Homo sapiens: one gene and its partners. The protein of the gene in region 2 interacts with the protein of the main gene of each other region in a pairwise test. Each region holds a gene or a part of one and is shown on either strand. Other genes may lie near its edges.

Evidence for each region.
Region 1: the proteins of USP15 (region 2) and TIFAB interact in binary tests that used the Homo sapiens proteins (3 or more experiments, as listed by UniProt).
Region 3: the proteins of USP15 (region 2) and SPDL1 interact in binary tests that used the Homo sapiens proteins (3 or more experiments, as listed by UniProt).

Annotation. Positions count from the first base shown.
Region 1 is NC_000005.10:135,443,702-135,447,456, reverse strand, and holds the end of TIFAB (TRAF-interacting protein with FHA domain-containing protein B), read left to right. Parts: 3' UTR 1-348; coding exon of another isoform or gene 349-1,083; 3' UTR 1,084-3,231; downstream 3,232-3,755. Other genes in the region: DCANP1 (dendritic cell nuclear protein 1), read left to right, coding at 349-1,083. UniProt on the Homo sapiens protein: Inhibits TIFA-mediated TRAF6 activation possibly by inducing a conformational change in TIFA.
Region 2 is NC_000012.12:62,382,278-62,385,932, reverse strand, and holds part of USP15 (ubiquitin carboxyl-terminal hydrolase 15), read right to left. Parts: intron 2,094-3,655; coding exon 1,935-2,093; intron 1,856-1,934; coding exon 1,631-1,855; intron 1-1,630. UniProt on the Homo sapiens protein: Hydrolase that removes conjugated ubiquitin from target proteins and regulates various pathways such as the TGF-beta receptor signaling, NF-kappa-B and RNF41/NRDP1-PRKN pathways.
Region 3 is NC_000005.10:169,590,133-169,593,787, forward strand, and holds part of SPDL1 (protein Spindly), read left to right. Parts: exon of another isoform or gene 1-697; intron 698-915; coding exon 916-1,092; intron 1,093-3,221; coding exon 3,222-3,416; intron 3,417-3,655. UniProt on the Homo sapiens protein: Required for the localization of dynein and dynactin to the mitotic kintochore.

The DNA of each region.
Region 1 (3,755 bases), on a different chromosome or scaffold from region 2:
TGCCCAGCACACACTTAATAAGGGTTAGCTACTATCATGAGACCTGAGAGAGGAGGGCTCACCATCCACACGGAGCTAAGGAAGACTCACACCCCAGTAAGCTGGCTCCAGAACCCAAGGGCTTACCTGTGCTCTGTGATTCCCCAACTAGGGATTTAGTTGTAGCCACGGACCTGGTAGGCAACAGGGAGGGGATTTTAATCTGCTCCTTGCATCAGAAGGTCCAATAGGCAGGGTTAGTATAATGGGAGATGCCCTGGTAGGGCTGGCAAGGAGAAGAAGCCACATGTATTTTGGTCTGATGAAAAGCAGCAGTGATCTGTCACTGACCAAAATGGTCCCCCAACTATGCATTACGGAGCAGCAACCCACATACAGAACTCGAGAAGCCACGGCCTGGAGACTGTACCTGGACACCAAAGACTGGAGAGAGGAGCTGGTGGGGAAACCCCAGAGTTCCCAGGGTGCCACTCCCCAGCTCCACCAGAGAACTTTGGGAATGAGCTGCTGCCCCTGAGTGCCCCTCTCCAGGGCCTCAGTGAGGGTCTCTACCCTCCAGGGAGGAACAAAACCTTGCCAGCTGGGGTCCTGCGAGAGGGGGCAGTTCAATTCCTCCACAGGGGACTCTGCAACTCCAATCTTTCGAGTGAAGCATCTGCGAGGCCCTCAGGGACCCAGGATGAACTGCATAGCAGCAGAAGGAAGACAGGCCAGACCAGGCGGGAGGGAGCCCGGAAACATCTGGTTTGTAGTTTCAGACTCTACCCGTTCACAGTTCACACAGTCTCACCGGGAAACTCACACCTTGCCCTGTACCAAGTTTTTAAGGCAGTTAAGCTCTGCCCATCCGAGACTTCATTTTTCTTGAGTAGAAAATCACTGAAATCATCAGATCCATGGCACCCACCTTCACTTTCTCCTAACAGCTGGAACCGTCAGGCTGGCTTCAGGGCCTGGTCTTCGCACTTGATATCACTATCCCTCACCTGCTCAGACAGCCAGAGCAGGCGGGTGAGTTCCTCCCAACAACCTCCACTGCATTCTCTCAGCTCCCACCGCAGGGCAGCCCACGTGCCTGAGTGAACATGTGTGCGTGTGCACACACGCAAGTATGCACAGACATACACTAAACACGAACATACAGTGCACATGAACGCTGCTCCCAGCTAGGGCCCTCTGGTCAGACTGCTGCCTGGGTTAGAATTCTTGTCCCCACCCCCACTTACTATAGTTCTGTGATCCTGGACAAGTAACTGAATCTCTCCGTGCCACAGTTTCTTCTTGTAGAAAACGGGAAAGTTCACAGTACTTACCTCCTTAGAGTCATTGTGAAGGTCAGTTTGAGGCATCACAAATTTAAGGCACCCAGACATAAGGGTCAACAGGGTTAGCTATCACTGTCCAGTTTGGTGGGAGGAACTGAATGCATGTAGGCACATGGACCCAGTCTACACTCAGGCACAAAAGGAGCTACATTAGTTACATTCAGGCATACCCCAGAGCACTACAATTCTCTGAGACATTGTCTGGAAATCTAGAAATCATCTCCTTGCCCTTTAAGGTATTTTAACCCTCGCATTCCTCTGCTTTTCCAAGAATGTGAATCTTGCCAAGCTGTCCGTGAGAGACACGGGCTCCCCTCGAGGGAGACTTGCAAATGCTCCATAAACAGCCACAGTGTGGGGCTCTGCCATGAGGAAGTCACAGCAGACACGCTAGACAGCATAGTCCTGGATGCAACCTGGAGGAAGGGAGGCCCATGGTGGAGCACTCACTCCGTGCCTGTCTGCCCGGTGAGACCTCAAGTTCCTTGCAGACAAAGGCCATGGGTTGTTGGCTCTTGTGTTCCCGGTGGCCTTTCCAGAGCTGAACAGAGGACAGATGCACAGACGGGGGGGCTCTGGTGGTCAAGGCAGCAGTCCCCTTGGATACTAAAGTCTGAGCCAGGCCCCTCAGGCCCGGCATGGGCAGTGCGAGGCCCATAGTGGTGGGAAGCCAGTTGGCCAGCTGGGGTGAGAAGGCCGCGAAGCCATGGGCAGACAGGAAGTGGAGGTGAATGTCTCTGCCTCCTGTAGGCCTCAGCAGGGACAGCACAGACCCTCTGGCTGGGGCAGCGCAGACCCTCTAGCTGGGGCAGAACAAGGCTGGTGCTTCCTTCTAGTCCTTGAGACTTTGTAGCTCTAACTCAAGCAGAACCCTGGGGTTTTGGGATTCTGTGTGGTGACTGCTGAGGAAGGTTTATGGATTTGACAGGGTGCATGTCACAGAGAGACAGTTCTCAGTCAGCACTTCCTGTCCCCTGCAGAGGCTCATAGGGGACAGCCCCTGCCAAGGAGACCCTGGAGGGGCTCTGAGGATAGCAATCAGAGGTTGGGCTGGCTGGACTGAGCCCAGGCCTGTTGCCCACCAAGTCTCCATAGGTTCTAGTCTGACCCCTCTCTCCACCCCTGGGCTATGCAGGCCAGCCCGTGCAGACCACCCCCGACGCGTCCACTTGCAACACCCGCCTCACTGTGCCAACACTCCATCCACACAGGAAAGGACTGAGAACGTGATGCTTAACCCAAAGGAGTGAGTTTCATAGGATGGGTGGCTTTAACAGTTTCACAGCAGGACACTGAGGGAATATTTCCCTATCCCTTCAAATGGACGGTCACTACAGAAACGTGTAGAGCAAGACTTTGTCAAGGGGCTGTTTCCAGGTCTCCCGGTGTCTAAATAGCAGAGCTGGAATGGGAACTGAGAACCGATTCTTTCCACAACCGCCCACTGAGCAGCAAGGCTGCAGCCAGCAAAGAGGTGCGGAGGCAAGCAAGCTCCATGTGGTGGGGACAGCGCATTGCGACCTCCACCACCCCTGCAGTGGGCTGCCAGCTGAGCCACCTGTCTTCCACTGTATCTACTGTACGAACTTCTCCAGCTCTGCTCTGTTTTCTCTTCCTCAGCATCCACCCCGTGACACGTAGTGGTGGCTGATGTCGCCACAGTACCATGAGGTTAACAGGTCCTCCCTCCAGCTTCCCTCATGGTGGCAGCCTAACCTGCATTGCAGCCGTTCACCGGACACCGCACCAGACCCTCAAAACCCATCCAAGACTGTGGGAGGAGTAAACAACCCAGCCCAGTTAAGAGGAGATGCCGAATTTAATGAACCCTATTTGAATTGCAGGGCTGTGATTCCTCTTACCTTTAACGTGAACTCACAGGCGGATTAAAGTGAAATAAAACCTACCATTTGAGTTACATTCTCAGCTGATTGGAAACATGCATTGCCTCCCCATGACCGGGCCGTGAGAAGGGAAGTTATTATCTTTCTTTAGAGTTTGTAAACTCTTTATGGCTGAGGCAGCTTTAATCCTGCTGGGGAAAAAAAAGGATCCGGGAATCAATTGCTCCTATTTACCTTTGTTTTCCAATCACATGCTCCAGTGGGAATAAAACATCCTAAGTGAGGGGATGTGGGGAGCCAGGTGATCCCTGACAGAAGAGTTTGATTATTTTCTTCTCTAGGCATGTGAATTGAAGGAACTTTAGAGTTCTATTTGGCAAGGGGTCTCATTTCACAAAAATGTGCACCCCAGTAAGGATATCAGCACTCCTGGGCCATTACTGGTTCCTCTGCCTTTTCTTTCCAGAGGAAATGCCCTCCATTCCCCAACCATGCCCACTTCTTTAAGGGGTGCTGGCAGCAAAGGGCCCAGCTCCAGGCATTTGGCCAGGAAGGAGTCCGAGTACAGGCAGATTTGAATCCAAAT
Region 2 (3,655 bases):
AGAATATTATCTCTAACAAATGTGCTGTAGAGAAATAAAACATCTACATTTATTTTTTGTTGCAGTAAATTTATACTTATTATTCTACGCTCTCTTGCTCCATTACACTCATTGGTGTATATCTGCAAAGTTATAAACTAGAGAGGTAAGGATGTGGTTTGGCACTGTTATAGTTTCTCACCATTGAAAAGAATGTTGACAATCTTGTACTTATAAACGAGTGAATAAGTGAATATCTAAAGGATATAACTTTAAAAATGTGAACACATATTCCCCAGGCCAAAAGTAAAAGCAGGTCTTTATTGGCTCTGCTCACAGATAAGGGATAGTACTTAGCACTCTCCAGTGAAATACTGATATGAGGGCATTGTGTTCAATGAGTTCATAAAGAAAACATAAAGCAGCAGAAAAACAAATTGCTTAAATTTGCATAACTGAGTACATACCTAGTATCTACTAGACTTTAATTACTTTGAATAAAAGGACTGTGTGTTTATGAACACTACATATACCCTGTCTTTGTTGACAATAAACCCAAATACATCCCTGAATGGTAAGATCATAATTTTGTTCAAATATAGCTTTCATATAGACATCGTGACTATTATGCACTAACAAACTGAGCTATTTGGCTAAAAATTTACAGAAAACAATCTTCTAAAGCAGGAATCATATCTTTTTTGTTTAGCCAAAGAGCTTTATACTTAGTAGGTGCATAGTTAAGTATCTTGATGAATAAAATTTTTGAATACTTCTTGTGCATTAATATTTACCAGCCACAAAAGCTGGAAATACAAAGGTTTACAAGGTCTCTGTCTTCAAAGACTTGTAGTCTAGGGATAAAAGATAAAAGTAAGCCAAAAGTTATAACAAAATTAGTTAAGTGTTAGAATTTAGGGAAAGAGAGGTAGAAAAAGAAGAAGTTACTTTCACTGGGATGGGTCAAGTGTCAGAAGAGGATTAACTGATTAATAAATAAGGGAGAAAAGATAGTGCTTTACCCACAAAATATAAATAATCCAATTATAACACTAGGTAACGGAATCAGGCAGACAATTTGACAGTAAGACTTACCACAGGACTTTTGCACAGAATAAACAATATGTGATACTTCAAAGTATTAGAAATTAGAGAACATCACTGAACAAAATATTTTTAGTCTAACTGAATTTCTACTTTCTTTTAAGTTCCTAAAATGCCTAAAAATTACAGGTATTTAAATACACTACTATCACACTATGAATTAAAAGTATTAGCTTTACTTCCAATAGCCACTAGTAAAAAAAAATTACAATTAACACTAAAGAAAGTTGAAGTTTAAAAAAATTAAAAATATTATGTTGATCTTCATAAGCTAATATTCACCCCAATATTATAAAAATAAACCTCTATAAAAAGCCTTTTGAGAATTTTTTATAAGACACACGTTGCTCTTTCAAGACTGTAAAAAGTTACACTGATTTCCAAAGTATTCAGCTTATAAAATCTCTTATACAAATAAACATTATTGATTGGGCTTGATAATTCAATACTTAATTTTTATAATAAGGACTCAACACTAATTTTTTAATAAAAATAACAAATGCAAAAAAAAAAAAAAAAAAACAAAACAAACCAACCCATGATTTACCTGCATAGGTTTGGTAAGTGGATCCATTCTAACTAAGTAAACTTCCAAGGTGCGTTCTTTTTTCATGGGCAATGGAAGTGTCAAGTAACAAAAAGGATCAAATGTTACTGAAATCTTAGCACACTCAGGACAAACTAAAGTTGATTTGAAAAGGCCATGAAATATATCTACTATGATAGAATCATTTCGTTTTAAATGGTTTTCCCAGGCTTCTTCGGCAACCACCTACAAGGATAATAGACACAAATTAGAAAGAGGTATCACAAAATTATAACAATGGTGACAATAGGATCATGAAATTTACCTTATCTGGCCTTCCATCTGCATCTTTTAATTGTATATATGGTTTTTTCCTAATTCTATTCAAATCCTCATGTAATCCATCTAATAGGAAAGCTAACAGTTCTTGACAGTCTTGCTGCTGATATCCAGAGAACTGAGGTGCAAAACGTCCTACCTGTGTCTGTAAGAAATGCAAAACCATCAAATCAGTTCTAGGAACAGGGTTGATTTTTAAACATATGTACAATAGATTCTCATTATTCATGGATTCCACATTTGTGAATTTGCCTGCTTTCTAAAATGTATTTGTAACCCCAAAATCAATTCATGGTCATTTGTAGATATTTTCAGAGTGGCAAAAAATTTGAGTCACCTGATATGCATGTTACCAGCTGGGGTTGAACAAGGTGATGCTTTGGCTTGTTGTTTCAGCTCTGAATCTATAAACAAGTGTCCTTTGTAGTTTATTTAGTGTTATGTTTTTTCACATTTTTGTTTGTTTTGTTGTTAATTTCAGTGTTTAAAATGGTCACTAAATGAAGTACAAACATGCCAGCTAGTGTTCCTAAATGCAAGAAAGCTGTGATGTGCTTTATGGAGAAAAAGTATGTGTTAGATATGCTTCATTAAGACATGAGTTATAGCACTGTTTGCTGTGAGTTCAATGTTAAGGACTCAACAATATATATTAAACAAGTTGTTTTTAAACAGAAACACATGCAAAACAAAGTTATACATTGTCTGGTTGACGAAAATGTTGTGAACAAAGGCTTGGAGGAATCAAACCCTATAGTTTCCCTAGGAGTAATGGTTCAGTAGTTGTTATTTCAGTGTTTGTGGCAGCTTCATTGAACATAACTCCTGTGAATAATAAAAATTGTATACACGAACAACAGGAATATATATGAATTATATTTTGTTTTGCATTCCTAGTAAGCACTCAACAAAGCTTATCTGGGACAAAATAGATCAACACATGTAATCTTTAATATATAAAAATGTATTGATCTTTGTTTGGTCATAGATTTCATTGTCATTAATTGTTGTTTCACTATTTGTCAAAGGATTTTCCAGATGTCCTTAATTCTTAGCTTTAGGTATTCCTATTGCCTCCTCCTATAAATGTCTGGTAGGTAGACAGGAAGAGGCAGGTTCTCATCCTTGCTATATTACCACATAAAGATAATTACGTATCTGAAAGCATTTTTAAGATAACTACTCTAGGCTCTCACTTAGTTTCTATGCGCAAAAGGAGGATGAGTATCACAGAGATAACAGAAACATTAATGTTCATATTCAATTTTCCTAATCTTTCATCACTAAGTATTTTTGTTTTTGGATGAGACTGAAAATAAATGTAATAGTATGAATCATCATCTGACAGAAAAAAAGTCACACATAAAGAACCTATTTACACATAATTTTAAGAGAGAAAATCTACCAAAATAAAACCAATTAGAATGCTAGTAAGAGCTGAGAGATGGTTTGTCTGGACTAGTTTGTCCAAAGTTTAGAATGTTAAGGAAGACAATACAGAGGCATTTTGATTTGCTGGTTTTTTATTTTCTAAGAACTAGTATATAGCTAATAAAAAATGTTGTCCAGTAGATGTCCTCTATCAATGCCATTTAAATTACTTGTATAAATAACGACTTAAAACTGCTTATTCTCTCTACAAGTTTAAAACTTCTCAAAGTTTCACCTATATAATTAAGTAGGCATTTTTTTAACAATATAAAGCTA
Region 3 (3,655 bases), on a different chromosome or scaffold from region 2:
GGGTAATTTAGCAAATGCTCAGTAACATATTTAAACTTGAATCTCAACATTGTAAATATGGCAGGTAAAAAATATCTGTAGCAGGTAAAAATAACTAGTGATGGCAACCTTTGTGTTTCTACATAGTACTGTTGTAAACCAAGAACTGAGTGCAAAGTCATAAAGGCAAAGTAAAGATTACAAATATCACTAATAGAAAATAAAACTGTTATACTTAATCATTTTGAGTCATAACTTGTCAAATTTCAGTGTTTAACAGTTAATACTCTTTGTCTTCCTTTAAAATAAAATGGTTTTTGAGGGGAATATTTTATCATTTTTTAAAGCCTCTTGAAGGAGTTCGTACTTGTAACATTTTTAATGTCTAAACTTCCCTGTGAGTAAGCAAAAGCCCTTTTAATTACTCCTTTTGTCTCAGCTCTGCATTCATTCTGATAGACCTTTTGTGACATTTCTCAGATGACTACATTCTGAAAGTAAAGGCTAATTCAGTATTTCTTTTTTTTCAACTATTATTACTACTACATTGTGTTCAGAGCTACAAGTAGAGCATCTCATTATCAAACTAATAATTCTCATGAGGAAAGCTTAAGTGCTGTTAAATCTTTTTTTGTTGTTAGCAGAGATTACTTGACTTGACGTGTTGACATACCATGGAGCACATTTTACTTCCTTGACAAGGCACAGAAGCAGTAAGGTATCCCTTGCATGGGTTTAACATAGTTTCGAAATACACCTCAGGGGTTTATTAAGACTGATTAACTACAAAGTTATTCCAGGTTTAACATGTCTTCGTTATTTGGAAAGCAGCAAATGCTTGAAATAAGAATGAAACAATTGAAGTTGAAAACTGATTGTATGTAATGGCTTTAGGCTATTTTTATGTAATTGAATTGTAATTGAATCTGTTTTCAGAGTTATGAACAAGAAAAATATACCCTTCAAAGAGAAGTTGAACTCAAGAGTCGAATGTTAGAAAGTTTGAGCTGCGAATGTGAAGCTATTAAACAACAACAAAAAATGCACCTGGAGAAATTGGAAGAACAACTAAGCAGAAGCCATGGACAGGAAGTGAATGAACTAAAAACTAAGGTTGGGATATCTGCGTATTTCAGCACAAAATATTCCATATTTATGCAGCCATCTGTAAACTTTAGATGATAAAGATTTTCTTAAGTGTCAGCTTTGCAAAATAGCCAAGATCTAAGTCTTCATTATCTTAATATTGGGGGTGGGAACACTGAGATACAAGAGTTTGTCTAAGGGACTTGTATAAATTATATCCTATTAATTAAATACAATTATTTAATTTTGGTTGCTGGATATTTGTGAAGGTTTAGTTTAGTGACTAGCATGGCCTCCTTGCTGATAGTGGGTACAGCAGCCCCTTGCAGAAAGCCTCGTCTCCTAGCCTTCCCTGCAGTCAGTGGTATGCTTTGTAATTCTGTAAAACAGACCAGTAGTTTCTTACTAGTTAATGTGCATTACAAATGACACTTTATAGTTTGTTTACTGAGGATAAACTAATACATGTGCTCCAGTTCTTACAATAATATTGTGGAAAGGTACCATTATCATTTCCATATACCAGATGAAAGAGCCAGTGTTTAGACAGACTGAGTAAATTGGACACAATTCAAGAACTAGAAATTCTCCATCTAGGTTTGAACTGAGGCTGTCTGACTCCAAAGGCTGTGTTACTGAATCACTACATAGTCTAACAGCATGTTACACTGGCTCCATTTCAAACATAAACGCAAGATAAATGATTGGTCAGTGGTTTTCCCTTTTCCCAGCTAGCCAGTGCTTTCAGGTTGCTTCTGAGGAATCCAGAACTTTTTATCATGGATCTGCTTTGTGTATAGTCTATACTCTGACTTTTCCAGACACTGTCTACCAAAACTTGCCTGACTTTTGTCCTCCTTTCTCAGAAGTCTGTTACCCAATTTTCAGCTTCTTGTATAGCAGCCTCTAAGATTTTTCTTTTTCTGTATACCACCTATACTATTACTTAATTTCTCATTGACTCTCTTTTAATGTTTACTGATTTTAAGAAACATCAATGAAAGTATTTTTTTTTCCTTTTTTTTTTTTTTTTTTTTGAGGCAGAGTCTCACACTGTCGCCCAGGCTGGAGTGCAGTGGCATGATCTCGGCTCACCTGCAACCTCTGCCTCCCGGGTTCAAACGATTCTCCTGCCTCAGGCTCCTAAGTGGCTGGGATTACAGGTGTGCGCCACCACGCCCAGCTAATTTTTGTATTTTAATAGAGACAGGGTTTCACCATGTTGGTCAGGCTGGTCTCTAACTCCTGACCTCGTGATCCGCCCACTTCAGCCTCGCAAAGTGCTGGGATTACAGGCCTGAGCCACTGCGCCTGGCCAAAATTACATATTTAAGCTTGCTTATTTTTTCCCAGTATACACTAAAACAAACATAGCTATCTAAATATACCTTCATGTAATATATAATCATCTTGCATACCACTCTGACAGATAATATCATCCAGCTTGTCTGAAACTAGTCGGATTTGAGGCCCTAATGACTGATAATGATGTGCTTTCTTCCCCCTCTGGTTGTTATTTTTATTTTTGCAATAGTTTTCATCACCTAAACAAAAAAGAGTAATAAAGGGAGTATTCAGGACTGAGGTAAGGCTAATTATAGAGATGGCTTTTTTTTTTTTTTTTTTTTTTGGTGGAGCAAAGAGTACATTAGTGAAATATTTTGTTTTACTGATTTTCTCAAATCACTTATGCCAAAATTTGGATTTTTTTAATACCTTTTCTTCTCTTATTTTTCACATTTAATTCATCAAGTTCTAAGAACTTGACCTACAAAACATCTATGACGCTACTGCCACTCCAATCCAGACCTTCATCATCTCTTTCCTGGACTACTGCTGTAGCCTTCTGACCAGGTTGCTTGCTTCCATTGTTTCTCTTCATGCCAGTCATTCTTCACACAGTAGCCAAGTGGTCCGCATCATAGTGCCTCCAGATTGCTTCTGAGGCATCCAGACCCACCCCGATTACTCATGGATTATTTCTATGTTTATTAAACAAGGTGTGTCACTAGCTGTTAAAAGATGCCTAACCTTGGGCAAATAGGAAACTCCAATAGTATCATCATTCAGTAAGTTTGGTTCAATCAGTTCAATCAGTGATTGTTTTTAGAAAGAAAATAACTTTCAATTTATGACTTTTTTTTTTTTGGCTTTAGATAGAAAAACTGAAAGTGGAATTAGATGAAGCCAGGCTTAGTGAAAAGCAGCTGAAGCACCAAGTAGATCATCAGAAGGAACTCCTCTCTTGTAAATCAGAGGAACTGCGCGTAATGTCTGAACGTGTGCAGGAAAGCATGTCTTCAGAGATGCTGGCTCTTCAAATTGAGCTGACAGAAATGGAGAGTATGAAGGTAATTTTTATGGCATGTGTTTCTCAGGGTTTTCTCTTTTTTTTTCTGGCATATTTTTACATGTTTTGGTAATAATTCTTAAGAGCTAGTTTGAAGGCTGAAACATTTTTTGACCTAACTTGCATCTAACTAATTAAAAAATGGGTTTTTTTTAGGTGGATGACTTCATTCATAATATAGCTTTAGACTATATGATTATGTAAGGCAGCCTTTCTCTTAGATTAATGAAACGTCTGGAA